Linked DNA regions of Homo sapiens. The gene in region 2 interacts genetically with the main gene of each other region. Each region holds a gene or a part of one and is shown on either strand. Other genes may lie near its edges.

Region 1 (4,464 bases), about 120 Mb from region 2:
ATGACAATCCCACAAAGCGCTCTTGCCCCCCTGTTACAGATGAGGAAACTGAGGCACAGAATTCCCTCATCCATCTGTCTTTATGCTCAGGGTCACCAGAGTTAACCAGTTGAGTGGGGAGCCTCAAAATAGTGGGAAATCCAAGAGGCATTTATCTCTGCCATGGAATGCCATCCCTTCCCCAGGCTGTTAGGAAAAAGCCCTCATTCTGGGAGGCAGAGATGAGTCTGGGTCAGAGGTGTGTGGGCATTGCCTCTAGGGGTGCCCCCTGCCCTCTGGGGTGCAGGAAGTGGATCACAGGATACAAACTGAGAGAAGCCTTCCTTCCACCCCACTAACCCCATCCGGACATCCTGGTTTCCACCACTGGGGTCTTTCCTGGCCAGTGCAGGAGGGAGAGGAGACGGCTGTTTCCATCAGGCCCCTCACGTCTGCCCCTTTGGGATTGGGGAGCAGGCCTAGGGTGTCGTGTATGTGTCACTGTGGGCTGTTGCCTCTCTCCTTGACTGTGTGCCTGTGTACCTGGAGGTGACTATACATGTCCACACGTGTCTATGTATATGTCTGTGGCTGTGACCAGGAGGGGATCTCTGTGAGTGTGTGGGGTTGTGTCTGTGTCCTCGAGTGTCTGATCTGGTGGCTTGCCCTTGCTAGCAGCAGAGGATGACACTTCAGGGGTCATGAGCCACTGACCTGTCTGAAAGGCAAGTCTGGGGGTCACTGAGACCTATGCAAGGCCGTGGGTTTTTTACAGGCGTGACAAGGAGTGGTGAGGGGTGCCTGGGCAGAGCTCACCTGTAGATAGGGGATGACCTTGCAGAGGGCATGGCCGAACAGCCAGGACTCAGTGATGTCCACCAGCAGGCTGGCCGGCAGGCAGATAGCAGTCACCAGAACGTCAGCCAGGGACAGGTTGACAATGAAGTAGTTGGTGACTGTCCTCATGTGGTGGTTCCGCCACACGGCCAGGCAGACTGCAGGGTGCAGCGAGGTGAAGCTGGTGGCAGAGCCACACCCATCCTAGTTCTGCCTAATCAGCGAGCCCTCCTCCCACACAACCCCCTTCAATCCCCAGGGAAAGCCGGCAGCACTGCCGGGCAAGCCCTGGACCTACCCAGCGTGTTGCCCACCAGGGCCACGACGAACACAGCCACATAGGCTGCGATGAGGACCCACTCATACTGTTTTGGGTACAGATAATCGCGCCACAGATAGCGGAGAAACTCATCTTCATAGTCTGGAGGCACAGGGGACGGCTCTCTGCTGCCAGGGGGGACCCCCATCTGGGCCCCTGGGGTGGCTGAGGGCTCCATGAGCTCAGGAGCCGCTGCAGCAGAGGGGCATCCTAGGCTCTACAGAGGGAGAGGAGGGAGCTTGGGCCAGCCCTCAGCCCACTCCCTTCAGGGTGCCTGGAGGCTTGCACCCAGGTCTTTTCGGGTCTCAGCCTCAAACTTCCTGAAGGGAGGAAGGAAAGGAGGGAGTGGGAAAAGAGAGAAGGAAGGAAACATTAGGGATTGTGCCAGGCGCTTTGCGTATAAGTTCCCTCTTAATTCTCACAGTCATGAAATTGGTGGAGGAAGACAGACCTGGGTTGCATCCCAATTCCACACCAGTTGCCTTGGGTAGCTTACCTGGCCTCTTTCAGCCTTGGTTTCCCCATCTGTCTAATGGGGTGACAGCCCTACATACCTTACAGGACCACGATGAGGAGTAATGAGCTCCGATGCGTGCCAAGTGCTTCACCAAGAACCTGGTACGAGAAGGTAGTTTCGGGGACGTTTCCGGTTACCATTATTAGGGTACCCTGCTTTGCAGATGAGACCGAAGCTCAGAGAGATTGAGTCTCTTGCTCAAGGTCACAAAGCTCTTAAGCCAGGTCTGTTCGAACCCACCAAACACCGTAGATTTGGGAGGAGAAGCCATCCCGATTGCAAATATTTCTTGAGCCAGTTCAGAGGCTTTAACTTTGGGTTGGGAAAACGGGCCAAGGGAGGTGTTAGAGACCCAAGCCCCACCCGCCATACCTGCCAGACCCTCCGGTGGGCACTCGCGGACACGCACACATACAACACACACACAGTGGGGGTGGTGCGCGGAGGGACTGACGACCCCTTGCGAGCAAGGGGAGCATCCAGGCCCCCTAAGAGGCCCCTTTGGGTCCCCAGGGCCGCGACGCTCCCCGACGGCCGCCAGGAGCCGCTGTTCCGGCGCGCGGGTCGCTCTCCATTCATAAATCCAGCCAGCCCAGCTCCCCGCCCCTCCCCTCCTCCCGCACTCAGCCCCTCCTTCCCCCGGCTGGGCTAGGACGACCCCGGCCAGGTGCCGGAGGGTTGCGGATCCCTGGAGACCCCTGGGGAAGGGGAGGGGACGCCTTCATACCCCACTGAACGCCGGCAGGCCCGCTCCGTCCGCGGGACCTTCCTGCACCTCGGGGGCTGGCGGGGCTCCGGGAAGGCGCGGGGGAGCGAGGGCACTCGGAGCCTGCCTAGAGGAGAGCAGCGCTGGCCGAGGAGCCAGTCTCCCAGCACCCAGGTTACCCCCCGAGACTCTTGGCTCCTCCCATCCCTCGCCGCGGGTCCTTTGGAACCCCCATCCCAGGCCTGGGGGTCCCCCACACCCCGCACCTGTTGGCTCCGGGACCCGGGCGTTCTCGGCTGCTGGTCCCCGGACCTGGCACCGGGGACTTCGCCTTCCTGCGAGGAAGGCCGAGCCTCTAGGGGCCGGGACTGCAGGAGGGGGCCGGGGCAGCCCCCTCCCTAGGCTGCGCTGCCTCGGCTCGCGGGGCTCAGCACGATCCGCGGCAACTGCGCGGGCTGTGGCTCGGCGCGGGCTCCGCCGGGCTGCGCGCTGCGGGGAGGGAGGGCCGGCGGGAGGGGCAGGGCGGGGTGGGAGCCCCCAGACGGTCTTGGCTCCCTGTCTTCCAGCCCCGAGACCCGCAGGGCGGAGGGAGACGCTCGTTCCTTCTAGCCTCCCACTTCAAGCTTCCATCCCACCTCCATTCATGCGTCCATCCGTTCATTCATTCCATCCTCATTCATTCAACATTTATGCCCCTGGCCACCCCGCATTCTGGGCGCACTTAGTGTGTGCCGGCGGGCCTGGCAGCTTCAGAGGGCCACAGTGCAGAGGTGGAGCCCAGCCCCGCCTCTCCTTGCTGCCTCACCTAACTGAGGAGGAGGATGGCACAGGTGGGTCACAGGGGTGAGACAGAGAGGATGCCTGCACCGCCTCCAGCCTAGCTCCGGATGCTGCTGTAACAGCTAGCTCCCAACGATGCCAGAGAAGCCTGTTCTCCCATCTCCCAGCCCCCCATCCTATCTGCCCCCAGTTTCTCTTTTTGTTATACCTACTGTTCCCCCCAAAAATCAAGGACGCCGGTGGGGACAGAAGTGGGGGTTCGTTAATTCCACAAATAACGATTTATTAAGCTGTGTGCTAGGCAGTGAGTTCTAATAATACAGCTACCGTTTGGATAATGCATATGATGCCTGCTCTCATTTAATCTTCATATCAACCTGGTGAGGTGGTCGTTATTGTCCCCATTTTACAGATAAGGACACTGGATCCACATGGCGCAATGACTTGCCCAAGGTCGCACAGCAGAGGCAGAGCTGGGCTTTGAGCCTCTGCCCCTCTCAGGCCTCTAGCCTCTCTCACCAGACACAGTCTCCCTCCCCTGCAAAATCTCTCTGGCTGGTGGGGGAGGCAGGTGCACACCCAGGCAATTAACCTGTGGTGTGAGGAGGGTGTGAGGGCCCTGGGGGCTGTGGGGCACAGGAGGACAGACCGACTCAGCCAGGGCATGAGAACAGGCTTCCTGGAGCAGGGACATCTCCATGGAGACCTGAAGAATAAGAAGGTAGCCTGCAAGGGGGATTGTGGTATTCGAGGAGAGGCATTCAAGGTCAGGAAACAGCAGGTGCAAAGGTTTGAAGGTTGGGGATTCTGGAAATCACAGGTAGGTGAAGGGTGACTGCCTGAGCATCATGCAGTCACCTTGGCCATCCCCTAGCTCAGCATAGGACATTCCTAACATGTCACCCTCTGAAACTCACACTGTTTCCCTCCTGGGAGGTGACTCCTGGGATGCAACCACCATCTTTCCCATTGCAGCCAAAGCCCTTTTCAAAGGCTCTGAAGATGCGCCGTTAGGCATAGGAGGTGTGGGAGAGGAACTGGAGCAGCATAAGGGAGGGGGCCAGTGACCTTAACCTCTGCAGAACAGGAGGATGGACTGAAGCTAAACCCAAGGCAGAACTTTGTCCTTGGGCAGGTATGGCATCTGCATGGTGTGTGATGTCTTGTCTTCCCTAGGTGCTGGCCGAGGTAGGAGAATGAGTGAAGGGACTCAGAAGAGGGGCTGCTGTGTGTGTGTGTGTGTGTGTGCGTGTGTGCATGTGTGAATGTGTGGGTGTGTGCATGTCTGCATATGTGTGCATGAGTGTGTGTTTGTGTTTGAGTCTT
Region 2 (3,212 bases):
GGCACCACTGCACTCCAGCCTGGGCGAAGGAGCGAGACTCCGTCTCAAAAAAAAAAAAAAAAAAAGAGATTCTCCTGCCTCAGTCTCCTGAGTAGCTGGGATTACAGGCGCGTGCCACCATACCCAGCTAATTTTTGTATTTTTAGTAGAGACTGGGTTTCACCATGTTGGCCAGGCTGGTTTTGAACTCTTGACCTCAGGTGATCCATCCACCTCAGCCTCCCAAAGTGCTGGGATTACAGGCATGAGCCCCTGTGCCCGGCCAATAATAATAATTCTTAAGGATGTAAATGGGTCCTTAAACCAGTTTCAGCACTGCTGGGCAATTCATAGGCTGTTACTACTCTCAGAGCCTGCATTCCCAGCTTAAGAATCGAGAGTCTTTTTTTTTTACTTTTCCTTCTAGACCCTTGTAGAACAAGAAGTGAGTCTTATTTGAAGTAGAGAGTGGAGAACTGACTGTTTTCTGGCAACCCTCTCTCCCTCAAGAAGAGACACTGTCACTGGAATAAAGATTTTAATTGTCTCTGCTCATGGTAGAAGCAAGGCATACAGGCCCCCAACCCTTCTGCGCCACCCCTCTTCTCCCCTGTGCACTGTGTCTACTGCTGGGTGGAGGGGGTCGGGGGAGCAGGTATTGTGGGCCAGCCCCAGATGTGGGCTCCCCTGCCCTCTCTTCACCTAGTCTCTTTTCATGTTCCCCTTCAGGTGACTCTTTCTCCTCCCAGTAAGTCACAGGGTAGCAAGGCTGAGGGAGGAGAGCATGGGGAGGGGAGGGGATCAGGAATCCACAGCCCAGCCCGGCCTGAGTCCAGGTGGAGAGCAGGTGCGTGTGCCTGTGTGAGTGTCCCTGTGCATGGCCGTGGGCTTGGCTCAGCCTGTAAGCTCTGAGATCCCCCCATGCCAGTCCCCTCTCAGAGGTCCTATCTGGTGTCTTCACTGGGGTCAGCACACCTGAGCTATTCAAATTACTTCCATCCTTTGGCGATGGGGCTGCTGTGGGTGAGGCTGAGGCCTGGCACCTCTGTTGCTTCTGGCACAGGGTAGGGAGGTGTGGAGGGATAGGAGAGGAGGCAGGTCAGCCTCGGGTGCTACTCCCCCTCTCCCCAAGGAGCCAGTAGGTCCGAACCTTGCCTTTGCCCTGGAGGGAAAAAAGAGGATGGGCTGGGGAGTGGCACATGCCCTTTCCCCAGTCAGATGAGAGCCTTAGGGATGGGAGTGGCATTGGCTGCTTGAGAAGGGTAACTCCCTCTAGGACCCCAAAAGGTGGGGAGGGCAGAGGCTTCTCCCTCTACCTTCATTTCTACATCCCCTCGAAGCTCCAGCTCGAAACCACCAAACTCCTCCAGGACAGCCTTGGTCTCAGAAGACAAGTGGATCTTCAGGGCTGGGTAGGACAGGGGAGAAGGGAAGGTGAGCAATGTGAGAGAGGAGAGCAGGAAAGTAGAGGCAAAAGAGACCAGGGACTGTGGGGGTGGACAGGTGGACAGGTACCCTCTCTCCCTCTTTTGGGCCAGGAAGCCCTCTAGCTCAGAGGGGCCCCACCCCCTGAATGTAGTGCGTGACCACATTAGCCTCTCATTTAGAACTCTGGAGCTGTGTAATCCAATACAGTAGCCACTAATCACATGTGCCTGTTTCAACTTAAATTAATTTAAACTAAATACAGTTAAAAATTCAGGCTGGGTGCTGTGGCTCACACCTGTAATCCCAGCACTTTGGGAGGCTGAGGCAGGAGGATCACTTGAGGCCAGGAGTTCGAGACCATCCTGGCCAATATGGCGAAACCCCGTCTCTACTAAAAATACAAAAATTAGCTGTGTGTGGTGGCACTCACCTGTAATTCCAGCTACTTGGGAGGCTGAGGCAGGAGAATCGCTTGAACCTGGGAGGCGGAGGTTGCAGTGAGCCGAGATTGCACCACTGCACTCCATCCAGGCTGGGCGACAGAGCGAAACTCTGTCTCCAAAAAAAAAAAAAAAAATCAGGGCCTCAGTTGCACCCGTCACATTTCCAGTGATAAGTAGCCATATGTGCCTAGAGGCTACTGTATTGGACAGCACAGAATACAGAACATTTTCATGACTATGGAACATCCTGTTGGACAGCACTCTCTGGAGTGTCACCCGGCTCTACACAGCATGGTGGTTAGGAGCTGGCACTTTGGATCCTGCACTGCCTCAGTATGAACCTCAGCTTGGATACTTGCTTAGGTATGTAAAATAAATTCTCTCTGCTTCATTTTCCTAATCTGTAAAATGCTGATAGTGTCAGTACCCATCTCAAAACCTTGTTGTGAGGATTAAATTTAACATCCATAAAGTATTCAAACGGAATGTGCTACCTAGGAAGCACTATGTAAATTGTTGCTTTCATGATTTCATGCTATACCCTCATTTTGTGGCCGAGGAACTGAGGCCCAGGGTGATCTGCCCAAGTGGCTGAGGAGGTCAGTGATGGAGTGGGGCCCAATATTGCCACACCCTCTCTTTGACCACTGTCTGAACTCATGTCCCTACTTCTGGGGTTTGCATCAATCACAGTGGCCTTGTTGTGTTTAACAGTTTCTTTCTTTTCTTTTCTTTCTTTCTCTCTTTTTTTTTTTTGAGACAGAGTCTCGCTCTGTTGCCCAGGGGTGCAGTCTCGGCTCACTGCAACATCCACCTCCTGGGTTCAAGTGATTTTCATGTCTCAGCCTCCTGAGTAGCTGGGATTACGGGCACGTGCCACCACGCCCAGCTAATTTTTTGTATTTTTAGTAGAGACAGGAGGTTCACCATGTTGGCCAGGCTAGTCTCCAACTCCTGGCCTCAAGTGATCTGCCCACCTCGGCCTCCCAAAGTGCTGGGATTACAAGCACCCCCAGCGCCCAGAATGTTGAACAATTTCTGGGAATGTGCTCCTTGAGGACTGGACCCTCAACAAGGGGCTGTACTCTGACAGCCCCCAAAATAGTGCCCAGGGAATATTTGCCGAACTAGATCCCTCTGGGCTCCCAGGACTGGCTCCCAAGCAGCCTTTCTTTCACCATAAGGTTTAGATGGGGTCCACATGAATTTCTCAGCTAACTCTGGATCTGGGCCATGTTACTATCCCAGGGCCTGGCACTCAGTAGTCACTCAATAAATGTTTACTGCATTGAATTGTGTCGAATACAGCAGAAGGATAGAAGATAAACAGGAGGCAAGAGCAAGGGGCGGGTAGGAGTAAGA

The links.
Region 1: changes in NPR1 (region 2) and HCRTR1 together harm fitness more than expected from each alone (negative genetic interaction), as found in Homo sapiens cells (one large-scale study listed by BioGRID).

The regions. Positions count from the first base shown.
Region 1 is NC_000001.11:31,616,042-31,620,505, reverse strand, and holds the start of HCRTR1 (orexin/Hypocretin receptor type 1), read right to left. Parts: upstream 2,818-4,464; 5' UTR 2,625-2,817; intron 2,482-2,624; exon of another isoform or gene 2,380-2,481; intron 2,038-2,379; exon of another isoform or gene 1,751-2,037; 5' UTR 1,690-1,750; exon of another isoform or gene 1,456-1,689; 5' UTR 1,314-1,455; coding exon 1,115-1,313; intron 975-1,114; coding exon 796-974; intron 1-795. UniProt on the Homo sapiens protein: Moderately selective excitatory receptor for orexin-A and, with a lower affinity, for orexin-B neuropeptide. Triggers an increase in cytoplasmic Ca(2+) levels in response to orexin-A binding.
Region 2 is NC_000001.11:153,691,281-153,694,492, reverse strand, and holds the end of NPR1 (atrial natriuretic peptide receptor 1 precursor), read right to left. Parts: intron 1,388-3,212; coding exon 1,296-1,387; intron 1,142-1,295; coding exon 1,079-1,141; 3' UTR 501-1,078; downstream 1-500. UniProt on the Homo sapiens protein: Receptor for the atrial natriuretic peptide NPPA/ANP and the brain natriuretic peptide NPPB/BNP which are potent vasoactive hormones playing a key role in cardiovascular homeostasis.